2 linked regions of the Homo sapiens genome follow. The protein of the gene in region 2 purifies or fractionates together with the protein of the main gene of each other region. This does not show direct contact. Each region holds a gene or a part of one and is shown on either strand. Other genes may lie near its edges.

What was found. The genes of interacting proteins can lie anywhere in the genome.
Region 1: the proteins of CHRM3 (region 2) and FASTKD1 purify together in Homo sapiens (affinity purification with mass spectrometry; 2 studies listed by BioGRID and IntAct, with this or other methods). This does not show direct contact.

What each region holds. Positions count from the first base shown.
Region 1 is NC_000002.12:169,542,866-169,549,901, forward strand, and holds part of FASTKD1 (FAST kinase domain-containing protein 1, mitochondrial), read right to left. Parts: intron 3,840-7,036; coding exon 3,353-3,839; intron 1,971-3,352; coding exon 1,856-1,970; intron 1-1,855. UniProt on the Homo sapiens protein: Involved in the down-regulation of mitochondrial MT-ND3 mRNA levels which leads to decreased respiratory complex I abundance and activity.
Region 2 is NC_000001.11:239,907,568-239,914,603, forward strand, and holds part of CHRM3 (muscarinic acetylcholine receptor M3), read left to right. Parts: coding exon 1-1,657; 3' UTR 1,658-7,036.

The DNA.
Region 1 (7,036 bases), on a different chromosome or scaffold from region 2:
AAAATCTAAATAGACAGAAACAATCAGACATTATGTGCCTCCAGATGTGATCTAAATATAAGGTATACAGCACTACATACAAGTTATTTTTGCTGCAAATGTTTAATCTGAACCTAACCAAGCATCTATACCTAATTTCTAGTTTACTACAAATGCAGGAGATGGAGAAGCAAGTTACAGGAAAACAATCAGACAAATCCAGAATGTGGCACAATTTATAAGAAATGGCCAATCATTTTATAAAAATAAATATCAAGCAAAAAAGATGGAGGAAAAGACATAACTACTCAATGCTGGTTGTTTAAAAAAAAGTTATAGCCAGGCACGGTGGCTCACATCTGTAATCCCAGCACTTTGGGAGGCTGAGGTGGGTGGATCACCTAAAGTCGGGAGTTCGAGACCAGCCTGACCAACATGGAGAAACCCCGTCTCTACTAAAAATACAAAATTAGCTGGGCGTAGTGGCGCATGCCTGTAATCCCAGCTACTCGGGAGACTGAGGCAGGAGAATCGCTTGAACCTGGGAGGCGGAGGTTGCAGTGAGCCGAGATTGTGCCATTACACTCCAGCCTGGGCAACAAGAGCAAAACTCTGTCTCAAAAAAAAAAGTTATAAAAGATAATTTGGTGACTCGGGAAAATTTGATTACGGACTAGGTAGTAGATGGTACTTGTTCATTTTCTTTGGTACTGGTAATGATACCAGTATTGTAGTTACATAGGAGAACGTCCTTATAACCTGAAGTACACAGAGCTGACAACTGGAAGGTTCATCATACGCATACGCGCTTGTGCACATACACAGAGCAAATGTGGCAAATGTTAATCAATACTCAATCACGACTGTGGGGCTACAGTTCATTATTATACAGTTTATTATTATACAGATGTTTGTTGTATTGTTCAATTTTTCTGTATATTTGAAAACCTGGATAACAAAAAGTTAAGAAAAAAAAAAACCAAGTCAATGCCAAGAAAAGAAAAAAAGGAAACAAAATTCTAAACTATAAGAGACTGAAGAGATAACAACCAAACACAATGAGTGAATACTGGGTGCAAAACAACTACTCTAAAATGTATTTTGGTAACACTTAGGGAGACTGAAACATGAACTGTGTATTAGATATTAGGGGACTATGATTAAGTTTCTTAGGTGTGGCAACAGTATTGTGGTGGTACAGAAGAATGTCATTATTCTTAGGAGATGTATGCTAAAGTAATTAGGGATGGAGGGTCACAATGACTACAACTTTGAAATGGCTCAGAAAAAAATAAGAGAGTCAGAGAAACAAACGGATAAGGCAAACACTGTAAAATGTTAACATTATTGAATCTACACGGTGAGTATATATGTGTTCTTTGTTTAATTCTTTATACAAGTTTGACATTTTTCATAATTAAAATGGATACAAAGTTTTTATAGGGCCGGGCGCAGTGGCTCACACCTGTAATCCCAACACTTTGGGAAGCCTTGGCGGGTGGATCACCTGAGGTCAGGAGTTCCTGACCACCCTGGCCAACATGGTGAAACCCTGTCTGTACTAAAAATGCAAAAAATTAGCCGGGTGTGGTGGCACATGCTTATAGTCCAAGCTACTGGGGTGACTGAGGCAGGAGAATCACTTGAACCCAGGAGACAGAGGTTGCAATGAGCCAAGATCGCACCACTACACTCCAGCCTGGGCGACAGAGCAAGACTCTGTCTCAAAAACAAACAAACAAACAAAAAACCTTTTTTTAGGTAGATAATTCATGTCTATTATGGTTACCCTTTAAATGAGGGACATCTCCTAGCTCAGCAGCAACAAGTATCCTCTGACTTATTCACTCAATGTATTACCAAACAATATACCTACCTAAGTAAGAATTAAGATGTTGCACGCAAGTTCCCAAAAATTCATCCCTTTGAGGTGGATCATAGTTCAATACGCTGAATGGACGAATAATAGCAGGGATTGTAAAAGGATGGATCTGTATAAAAAGAACAAAAAATTTATAGTTTAAACTTTAGGAAAATAAGACAAAATTTTAACCTAATTATTTTTTAGGAGAAATCTTTTCCTATCATCGCTACAGTTAAATAATAAATGTATCACCCTGCTTATTAATTTTTCCATCCTGCTATAATTTATTTAACCCCACCAACATTATTAATAACCCCAAAAGTGTTAATGTAACAAAAAAGAAGTAAATCAGATAATTTACAAATTTATTTTGTTAGGTGTAAAATTCTGTTCTGGCTGGGAGTGGTGGCTCATGCCTGTCATCCCAACACTTTGGATGGCTGAGGTGGGAGGATTGCTTGAGGCCAGGAGTTCGAGATTAGTCAGGGCAACATAGTGAGACCCTGTCTTTATTTAAATTTAAAATAAGTAAATAAATTCTGTTTCAGAATTCATTAGTCACTAAATTGAATAGGAAACAGTATCAGCAATTTCCATGATAATCAGTACATTTTATAGAATAATCATAATTAAAGAAGTTTCTTAAATTATAATCACTAGCATTTATTTTTCTTTCATTTGCTTTTTTATTTCATTTTTCACTCATTCATCCAATACTTAATGACTTCCAGGCACTATACTAAGCAAGTTAAGACAAACTTTTTATTTTCATTTGTGAGAAACACTGTCTTTTAAATAAAGGCCTTGCCCTGATATATTTATGATAGTGATTTTGTAAGTGAGCTGCTTCTCACATAATCCATAAAGCGGCATTTTACAAGTCCCAGAAATAAATCTGCAAGAAGATGCAATGACAGTTTAAGAATATAGTTGCCAATGGATACCTTATAATTTTCTCAGTTTTCAAGCTTATCTCACACTTTTGAATATAATTGTTTTTAAATGGTAAAAATAATACCACACGATTACAGAAATAAGAAAAAGTAAAACCAAAAATCATTCATACTCCACTGTCCTAACATGAGTATCCTCAAAGAATTGATTACTAATCTTAATACTGTAATGAACCAAAGAATGATTGCTGATCTTTCCAAATCTACAATGCCGGAATGAGAAAGTGACTTTAAGGAGAGGAACAACAAATCGCTGAAATAGAAACCAGAGTTTTCTTTGTTTTTCTTAAGAGACAGGGTCTCACTCTGTCACACAGGCTGGAGTGCAGTGGTGCAATCATAGCTCACTGAGCCTTAATTCCTGGGCTCAACCAATCCTCCCACCTCAGCCTCCCAACCGCTGGAATTACAGGCTTGAGCTACCACATCTGACCCAGAATTTATTTAATTTTTAAACCTCAAATTCCAATCCAAGTTCTCAAAGTGCCTATGATAAAAATTATGCTTGCAGAAGTTGACAACTCTATAAAATTAATGTCTACCATTTAAATTTCACCTTTTCAATCTGCTGAACAGCCACTGAGGCTATCCTATCTAGTAGCAAAGTACTGAGGTAATCAGTACTAGAAATAAAAGATGCAATCTCCCCAACATTTATGTAATTAATATCATCCATGAAATGCTGTAAAGTAGCAATCATTTCTTCAAGAAGTGACTCAGGAAACGTGTTTCCTTTGAGAGATTTAAGTTCCTTCCGTAACAGATCCAAACTGTTGCTGTGTTGTAGTCTCTGACGACCATAGTGATCTAATTTTTGAAGTAGTTTCAGTTGTTTCGCAGTCATATTATCCAAATACATGTGATCATGCTGAATCCATCTTAAAACAGATGTGGCAAAACTACTCAGGTTATTTAGGTCACACTGTGGTAAAACGGCTTCAATTCGGGATATCCCCACTTCGTCCAAGTGAGGAGAAGGGAGCAGGGAAATAGCACGGACCAGAACAGACACCTCAGTTGGTATGAAACTATTTTTCAAATAACTGCAAAATGAAAAATGAAAAGAATACATCAGCAACAAACCCAAAATATATATGTATTAAAATATGAATACATATGAGTACAATTAATAGGTAAGATGATGATTCAAAAAAACCTCTTTCAAACTATGTTTCTCCTCTAATCTCAAACCACAACAATCATCAACCACAGAAGACTTCTGTGACCAAATGTGTGGGAGTTCTTCCAAGCAGCGGATACCAACTGGGTGTCCAATTCAGTTCTGACACAATCTACCTGGGGACAGTGTCAGATCCCACAGGTTGGGAACTTGGTCTCTAAGACTAACCTCTCCCACAAAAACCCCAGACTCCACTTGCAAAAGTAGGCCTCCAGAACTTCTGAGCAACCGGCTTCAAGTTGGGTTTCCCATGACCTCCTCTTTGGGTTTGATTAATTTGCTGGAGTGATTCACAGAACTCAGGGAAGCAGTTGTTTATGTTTACAGGTTTATTATAAATGATATTATAAAGAATGCAGATGAAGGGACAGTAGGGTGAGGTATGCGGGAAGGGGTGCAGAGCTTCCATGCCCTCCCTGACCATGCCACCCTCCAGGAACCTCCACGTGTTCGGCTATCCGGAAGCAGTCCAAACCCAGTCTTCTTGGGTTTTTATGAGCTTCGTGACATCAACATTTCCTCACACAGGGTGTAGGGTGGGATCTCTCAGGGGAGCGTCTTAAGACCCACGATCAGAAAGGTGGAGGGAGATTAGAGTCCTGCTTTGGGGCAGGAGAGAGATTCTCTTTCCAGAGGCCTAACATACCCAACATTGTTAACAAAAGGCTATAGCAAGAGCTATAGAAGTTATGAACTAGTAACTAGGACAAAAGCCAATATATATAACATCACAGGTGGGCATAATACAAGTTAATTTAAGAAGAGTTAGATAGGCCAGGCACGGTGGCTCATGTCTGTAATCCCAGCACTTTGGGAGGCCAAGGACAGGGGTTCGAGACCAGTCTGGCCAACATGGTGAAACGCTGTCTCTACTAAAAACACAAAAAAATTAGCTTAGCCAGGCATGGTGATGTGCACCTGTAATCCCAGCTACTCAGGAGGTTGAGGCAGGGGAATCTCTTGAACCAGGGAGGTGGAGGTTGCAGTGAGCCAAGATCGTGCCACTGCACTCCAGCCTGGGCGACAGAGGAAGACTCCATCTCAAAAAAAAAAAAAAAAAAAAAAAAAAAAAAAAGAGTTTGATAAATTCAAAGATGACAGGTCCATAAAGGATTATTCAGGAAAGCCTAAGACTTCCTGATGCCCTCCGTCTCAAAAAAAAAAAAACAAAACAAAAACAAAAAGAAAAGAAAAGAAAAAAAAATCTTTAAGTATAGAAATAGTGGAAGGAATAAAGGAATAAAACAGGAAGACCTGTTCTGAAGCACAGGCCAAAATTTTTTATTCAAAAATAAAACCACAGTCCCAGGGAAACAAAAGGTCCATGTCAGAACAATGTTTCCAGTGCTGTCGCTGAAGAAAGAACTTGGGTTCAATTTCTGATATCACCTGTCAGGCCCTGGCATGCAGTGATCACGTAATAAAATTGGTTCCTTTTTTGTTTCCGATACACAGTCCAACATTTAAAACAAATGAATAAACAAACAACAACAAAAGAAACAGGACATAGTTGACCTCATTCTCTACTTCATTCCGAAATCCCCATGGCAAGAGTCCCACCACCAGGACAATAATTGTTAAAAAAAAAAAAAAAAATTGAAAAACTGGGGCCGGGCATGGTGGCTCACACCTTTAATTCCAGCATTTTGAGAGGCCAAGGCGGGGGATAGCTTGAGCTCAGAAGTTCGAGACTAGCCTGGCCAACATAATGAAACCCCATCTCTACTGAAAATACAAAAAATTAGCCGGGCGTGGTGGCACATGCCTGTAATCCTAGCTACTGGGGAGGCTAAGGCATGAGAATCGCTTGAACCCGGGAGGCGGAGGTTGCAGTGAGCCGAGATCACGCCACTGCACTCCAGCCTGGGTGACAGAGCAAGACTCCGCCTCAAAAAAAAAAAAAAAAAAAAAAAAACTTTAGGTATAGAAGTAGTGGAAGGAATAATACAATCTAAATTAAAACAAAATTGAGGCTGGGCGCGGTAGCTCACTCCTGTAATCCCAGCACTTTGGGAGGCCAAGGCGGGCAGATCACGAGGTCAGGAGATCGAGACCATTCTGGCTAACATGGTGAAACACCGTCTCTACTAAAAATACAAAAAAGAGTTAGCCGGGCATGGTGGTGGGTGCCTGTAGTCCCAGCTACTCAGGAGGCTGAGACAGGAGAATGGCGTGAACCCGGGAGGCGGAGCTTGCAGTGAGCCGAGATGGCACCACTGCACTCCAGCCTGGGCGACAGAGCGAGACTCCATCTCAAAAAATTAAATAAATAGCTGGGCGTGGTGGCTCACGCCTGTAATCCCATCCCTTTGGGAGGCCGAGGTGGGCGGATTACCTGAGGTCGGGAGTTCGAGACCAGCCTAACCAACATGGAAAAACCCCGTCTCTACTAAAAATACAAAAAAGTTAGCCAGGTGGGGTGGCGCATGTAATGCGCTGTAATCCCAGCTACTCGGGCGGCTGAGGCAGGAGAATCGGTTGAACCTGGGAGGCGGAGGTTGCGGTGAGCCGAGATTGTGCCACTGCACTCCAGCCTGGGCAACAAGAGCGAAACTCCATCTCAAAAAAAAATTAAAAATAAAAATAAATAAATAAATACATTGAGTTACTTTTAAAATATTTTTTAAATTAATTTTTTTCTGGAGACAGGGTCTCACTCTGTTGCCCAGGCTAGAGGGCAGTGGCGTAATATAGCTCATTGCAGCCTTGACCTCCTGGGCTCAAGTACTCCTCCTGCCTCAGCCTCTCTACACACTGGGGATATAGGTACATGCCACCACGCCCAGCTAATTTTTTGTTTTTTGTTGTGGAGACAGGGTCTTGCTTTATTGCCCAGGCTGGTCTTGAACTCCTGGGCTCAAACAATCCTCCCAGCTCAGTCTCCCAAAGTCCTGGGATTACAAGCATGAGCCACTATGCCTGGCCATTTAAAATATTTAAATTAGCATACTAAAATAATCGTAATATTAATACTCAGTGTTAGCAAGGGTGTACTGATACAGGCATTCTCATTCACTATTAGTAAACTTAAAAAGTTGGTGTAACTTCCTGGAAAGTAAT
Region 2 (7,036 bases):
CTACAATGTTTCTCGAGCAGCTGGCAATTTCTCCTCTCCAGACGGTACCACCGATGACCCTCTGGGAGGTCATACCGTCTGGCAAGTGGTCTTCATCGCTTTCTTAACGGGCATCCTGGCCTTGGTGACCATCATCGGCAACATCCTGGTAATTGTGTCATTTAAGGTCAACAAGCAGCTGAAGACGGTCAACAACTACTTCCTCTTAAGCCTGGCCTGTGCCGATCTGATTATCGGGGTCATTTCAATGAATCTGTTTACGACCTACATCATCATGAATCGATGGGCCTTAGGGAACTTGGCCTGTGACCTCTGGCTTGCCATTGACTACGTAGCCAGCAATGCCTCTGTTATGAATCTTCTGGTCATCAGCTTTGACAGATACTTTTCCATCACGAGGCCGCTCACGTACCGAGCCAAACGAACAACAAAGAGAGCCGGTGTGATGATCGGTCTGGCTTGGGTCATCTCCTTTGTCCTTTGGGCTCCTGCCATCTTGTTCTGGCAATACTTTGTTGGAAAGAGAACTGTGCCTCCGGGAGAGTGCTTCATTCAGTTCCTCAGTGAGCCCACCATTACTTTTGGCACAGCCATCGCTGCTTTTTATATGCCTGTCACCATTATGACTATTTTATACTGGAGGATCTATAAGGAAACTGAAAAGCGTACCAAAGAGCTTGCTGGCCTGCAAGCCTCTGGGACAGAGGCAGAGACAGAAAACTTTGTCCACCCCACGGGCAGTTCTCGAAGCTGCAGCAGTTACGAACTTCAACAGCAAAGCATGAAACGCTCCAACAGGAGGAAGTATGGCCGCTGCCACTTCTGGTTCACAACCAAGAGCTGGAAACCCAGCTCCGAGCAGATGGACCAAGACCACAGCAGCAGTGACAGTTGGAACAACAATGATGCTGCTGCCTCCCTGGAGAACTCCGCCTCCTCCGACGAGGAGGACATTGGCTCCGAGACGAGAGCCATCTACTCCATCGTGCTCAAGCTTCCGGGTCACAGCACCATCCTCAACTCCACCAAGTTACCCTCATCGGACAACCTGCAGGTGCCTGAGGAGGAGCTGGGGATGGTGGACTTGGAGAGGAAAGCCGACAAGCTGCAGGCCCAGAAGAGCGTGGACGATGGAGGCAGTTTTCCAAAAAGCTTCTCCAAGCTTCCCATCCAGCTAGAGTCAGCCGTGGACACAGCTAAGACTTCTGACGTCAACTCCTCAGTGGGTAAGAGCACGGCCACTCTACCTCTGTCCTTCAAGGAAGCCACTCTGGCCAAGAGGTTTGCTCTGAAGACCAGAAGTCAGATCACTAAGCGGAAAAGGATGTCCCTGGTCAAGGAGAAGAAAGCGGCCCAGACCCTCAGTGCGATCTTGCTTGCCTTCATCATCACTTGGACCCCATACAACATCATGGTTCTGGTGAACACCTTTTGTGACAGCTGCATACCCAAAACCTTTTGGAATCTGGGCTACTGGCTGTGCTACATCAACAGCACCGTGAACCCCGTGTGCTATGCTCTGTGCAACAAAACATTCAGAACCACTTTCAAGATGCTGCTGCTGTGCCAGTGTGACAAAAAAAAGAGGCGCAAGCAGCAGTACCAGCAGAGACAGTCGGTCATTTTTCACAAGCGCGCACCCGAGCAGGCCTTGTAGAATGAGGTTGTATCAATAGCAGTGACAAAACGCACACATCAACCCACAGACCTTAGGAGGAGGAAGGCGAGGGCGGGGTGACTTCTGGTGATGATAAAAATGGTTTTATCACCCAGATGTGAAAGAAGCTGCCTGTTTACTGATCCATTGAATAAACCCATTTTAATAGAAAAAGTCAATACCAATTCAGCAAAAAGAAAAAAAAAACATACTACTGAATATAAAGAAATTTATTCTGAAATAGACTTTACGTGTTTTTTTCTTAAAGAGGAGAAAAATATTGCTTGACGGCAATTATATACCCAAAGTGATTTGCCTGGGTCCTTTAATTCCCATTAGCTTTGGAATCTCAGATGAGCATAGCTGACCCAGTTCCCACATTCTTCCCAAGGATCCCAAAAGTGGGAATCCAGACCCCAAGTGGAACACTGCAGGCTTACGAATCTGTGGTTCCAAAATTATTTCATACGTTGCAAAGCTGAATCTTCTTGTCCCAATAGAGCTTCCTGTCTTTTCTTTGGTGTGTTGTTAAACTCTATTTGTGGACTTGATTCTTGATTCTTGCAAAGTACTGTTTTGTGCAGTTCAAGTTTCGTACAAATAAAAATACTTAAGTATATATATATGTGTGAGTTCTGCACGCACACACATAGTGTATATAATATCATGGGAAACACTGAACTGGCAAATTATTCCTGCAACATACGCTTTCAGTACTTTGGTAACTGAAGTTCTCTAGGATCCTAATGCAACATTAACGTGAAATAAGCCCAGTGTAATGTTTTTGAAACCAGGGCTGTTTTCCACAGAGAGCAGCCAGGCCTTCCCAGCAGGTCTGTGCAGAGCGGACAGGCTCGTGAGTCAGCTGAGCGCCGTGGCTTCGCCAGACTTGGTGTTAAGCAACCTCCTTTGTTGATGTCTCAACAGAGCTAAATCGGGGCCCCTCTGAGCTCAAAGAATGAACCACATCCACACGTTTGAATTTAATCATCTAAATCTGAATGTTTCAGAACAAAATTTCTGCTATCTAAACTGCTTGAAACTCAATAATAGTGTCACGTTTGAATGTCATACACAGCAATATATATATATGTGTATATATATATATATGGCAAAGCAAAAAAAAAAACATGGTAAGAGAGAATGAAGGAGAACATTGTGTTTGATTCTTGCTGAATGGCACCTTCTCAAAGAAAATAGGGCTTGCACCTTTGTTAATCAGCTGTGGCCAGTGCTTTCTGGTGTTCATTGTGTAACCTTCACCCAGGAATAGGTGAGGTTTTAGGAAGTTACATGTCCTCTGAAGAAAGAATTACACTCTGAAAAGTAATGCTTCAAATTGATTTCCTTACCTTTTGGGAAAAAAAAAAAATTGTTTTTTTGCATTCTCCCTTGAATTGACCAAAATGTTAACTGTTTCATTTGGGGAGGGGATGGGGTGCTGCCATCATTGTCGTTGTTGTTGCTGCTGTAGCTGTTGGGGTTTCTTTTCCTGTTGCCGGGGCTGTTTGGGGAGAGGGAGGGGAGGGAGGTGGGAGGGCCGCGGAGATATCTTCCCTTTGTACAGGGCATTCGTGTTGTGAACCCAGAGCTGGGTAGAAGCTGCTTTTGTATTCAGTGTGAGGTGGTGTTTACAGACGACTTTGACAACAGTAGAAGTGTACTCAGTGGTGTCTGTGTATCTGAACTATTTAATTTCGTGTTATGTTTATATGCAGAAATATTTATGGATACTACACCAAGTGTTTATTTAATGTTGATAAATATGACTCTTCAGTCGTCAGCCATGGTGTCCTTTCAAAGTGATTCTTTAAGGTCCACTTGAGCAATGAATAGAGTATATTGGAGCTTTCCTGTGGCTAAGAAGAAGAAACATGTCATCCTGTTGGCATCACCAAGCACCTAACTCTTTCTAGGTAATAAAAAGTCAACGGTCACTTCAACGTAAATGTTTAAAACCACTCTTTAGTTAAATCTGATGGGAACTGAACAAAGCTCCACCATTGTGTCTGAAATCATTTTACACAGGGAAAAAAAAAAACAATCAGCATAATTGTAAGAATGATTTTTTTGGGCCCACATTCAACCAAAGAACAAGAAAGAAACAGACGATTTTCTAATATGTACACAGCAAACTACAGAATGTCATATTATCCACCTGTGAAACATCTAGTAAGCAATTGCATCTATATTTTATTTCTCAAGTTGGCCTGGCACTAATAAATATGTGAAAGCTTATTCAAGTGTCCCAGTACTTCAGCACTTCCCATCCTTTTGGAAACTCCTATCTTGCCTCCCTCCCAAAAGGGCTGTTTCTTTTATTAAAAAAAAAAAAGAAATAGAATTAAATTTGAGAAAAGGAGAAACCCTGAAATTTAACAGAACTTTGAGAGTCACTTCCAATCTCCTTAAACATGATTATCTCCTTATCCTTGTCCTTTTGTGATGCTAATAATAGCAGAAAAGGAACAAATCCAAGACTCTAGGTCTCCCTTTTTTGTTTTACTGGTTTTATTATAGAATTGTTTTTAAGCCTCTTATGGATGAAAGCTGCATTTAAATACTATCTACTGATTTTATAGAAAGGTATGTCCATTTCTTGGGTCACTTTCAGAGAAAGAAAACAAGCAAAATAGGTTCTTTTGAATATGAATAATTTAAAAGCATAATTGAAGATGTAGTGAGTATTTATAATTGGACCTTAGTTACACGTGCATTTCTCAAAGGGCTTGTCATTACAGGAGATATTCAGCACTTACCTAAGATCAAAATGTCTTCATCCCAAATTGGGAATCGAATTATTTCATGCCATATGCATGAGGTTTGCAGACATTTCAAGATTAGCCACTTTGCTTGAAAGAAGAAAATGATCAAACCTAAAATAAACTACACATGGAGAATCTCTCTCTCTCTCTCTGCCTCTCTCTCTCTCTTTCTCCCTCTTCTTCCTTCTCTCTCTCTCACAAGCACACACACACACACTCAATCTCCATTCTCCAGGCATTGCCAGATGGTTAGGAGAAGTGAGCTCTCTCTGGTCCCCTAGATCCCTCGGCTCTGCTCTCCTTTGCCCATCAGCTCCCTGTGGCCTCTATGCTAGTCCTCCCTATTCTCCTAGTCACCCTTTGCCTCTTAAGCCCAGCCTTGACTCTCTACATATTTTTCATTTCTCTTTACCCTTTAGTGTACAATAGTTGTAGACTCTGACGGAATGAAAACAAACAAGAAGCCTAAGCGTTAGACCCTGCTGTGGCTAAAGATCTAGAAGGCATATCAGTTTTCTCTGTCAGGCTTCCTACGTTGCCCTCGTGCAGGGCTCATTGCTCTGCAGAGCGCTGGAAGCCCCTTCATGTATCGAGAGAGAAGCTGGAGCACAGAGCTCTGATGCACAGTTGGCTGTTTCAGCTCTGACTCAGGGAGGAAAGAAGGATGCCAAGGCTCTGTCACAGCGGAGAAGTCTAATACCAGAGTGGCACAGAGAAGGATTCCAGGGATCAGTCAGGGTGTCCTGTACCTATCTGAGTAGAGATGATTCAAGGATGGGGACATATTCCAGGAAATTGCACAATCTTCCCCTGGCAGCTTCAGAGGACGAGTGAAAATAGTGCAGTATAGTCAAAGAAGCAATGAATTTAGGATGAGGAACCTGAAGTTTCTGGACCAGTTTGGTCACTGCTTAGTTACATGTCCTTAGGAATGCTTGTCACTTAACCTAAACTTTCTGGGTTTTATCCTCATTGCTCAAACTAAGCAACAACACCGAAGCTTCTCTAATTTGCCTTCTGATGCCAAATCGGTCAAAACTGAGGTCAGCAGCTACCATGACGAAAGTAAAATGGTATATTGGGTGAATGTTTGAAAATTTCAGATTTTATATTCTGTAAAGTTATTTACTTACTCTATTTCAACACCACAAAATCTTGAAATTTGGAAGGTAACCAAGGAAGCTTTGAAATTTGTTGGCAAACCCGGAGTAGTATGGTTTCAAATACCACTCCAACCCAGCACCTGAGGTCGGGCAAACTCACAAAATAGAGTTTCTAGGTAGCAGGTGTTTGCTTTGGTTTTGCAATAGCATTTCTCATAACAGAACTGAAACTGTATAGATTACAACACTCCAAAGTTATTTTTTTTTAACCTAAAGAACCCTACTTCTAGCACCTCCTCTGAAAGAATATTTTGCTCCAATACCACGTGCAACAAACTTATTTAGACAGTATCAACTCTAGCCCTTAATAGGTTCAAGGACAAGTTTACTGCTTCCTTTCTACACGCTTAAGTTACACTCTCTTCTCCTGTTCTGATGACTCTAAATCTTCAGCCTCTCCCAGCATTAATGTGTGAGTCAACATTGCAGACCTGAGAAAGGTTTCTAGAATGGTAACCCAATGTTCTTTAGAACTGGAGAATTCCATTTTCCTTTTCTGGCTTTAGTGTTAATGTCTGGGAAGGGAGGCTCATGATAAGAAAATAAAAATGAGAAAAGAAGATCTAGTTCATAAAATGACTATACCCCACGTAAGTTTGTAACTGCACAGTGTTTTGTTGTACGGCTCAGAAATGAGCAAGTGTTAGTATTATTAGGCACACATCACGTTCACAGCTTCGCGCAGAGACGGATAGTGTATTTGGATATATGGAAGTCATCCAAATGCGTTGCTAGAATATCAGGCCTATGTTTGTTCTGGTAGAACCACAGAGACTCACACAAAGTTCTGACCCTACCACTCTGGTCTGGGCTGAGACCACCCCAAAAAATCATCTAGAGAATCAAAGGGGCTCACATCTCAGTTGCATTCTATTTAAAAGATAAAGGGGCCATACTCTCCACTGCAAAGAAGCATTAGTAAAACTTCCCGCACCCAAATTATAATCCGGCAACCCTAGCTTCAGCTAAAAAGATTATCCCCAGAATCTAAAAGCTTACTATTGTTCTTTCTTGGAGTCCAAAATGCTTAGCAGTTCTGCAGTTCACATACAAAACTCAAAACTCTTTTTATCCTGTATTCTGTGAGTTCCTTGATGATAGTAATTGGGTCTTATTCATCACTCTGTATCCTGTGGCTCACACAGAATCTGGCAAATTGCATATATTCAATAAATGTTGAATATCTAATAACCTCCTTATTAATATAACAAATATTATCAACATTCTGTGCACATCAATGTCCCATGCTGCTACTGTAGTCAGGAGTTATTTGGCTGGGAAGTGGAAAGTGTTCACAAACATGATGCTTATCTAATAAAATATCACTGAGCAATAAGGAGAAATATTTTAAATAGATTTGAAGTTGTGAACAAATAATTTAGAGTCCAAAGAGGAAAAAGAAAATTAACTCTGTTTTTTATCCCTAGAACTCAGAAACTTTACTGGATTGG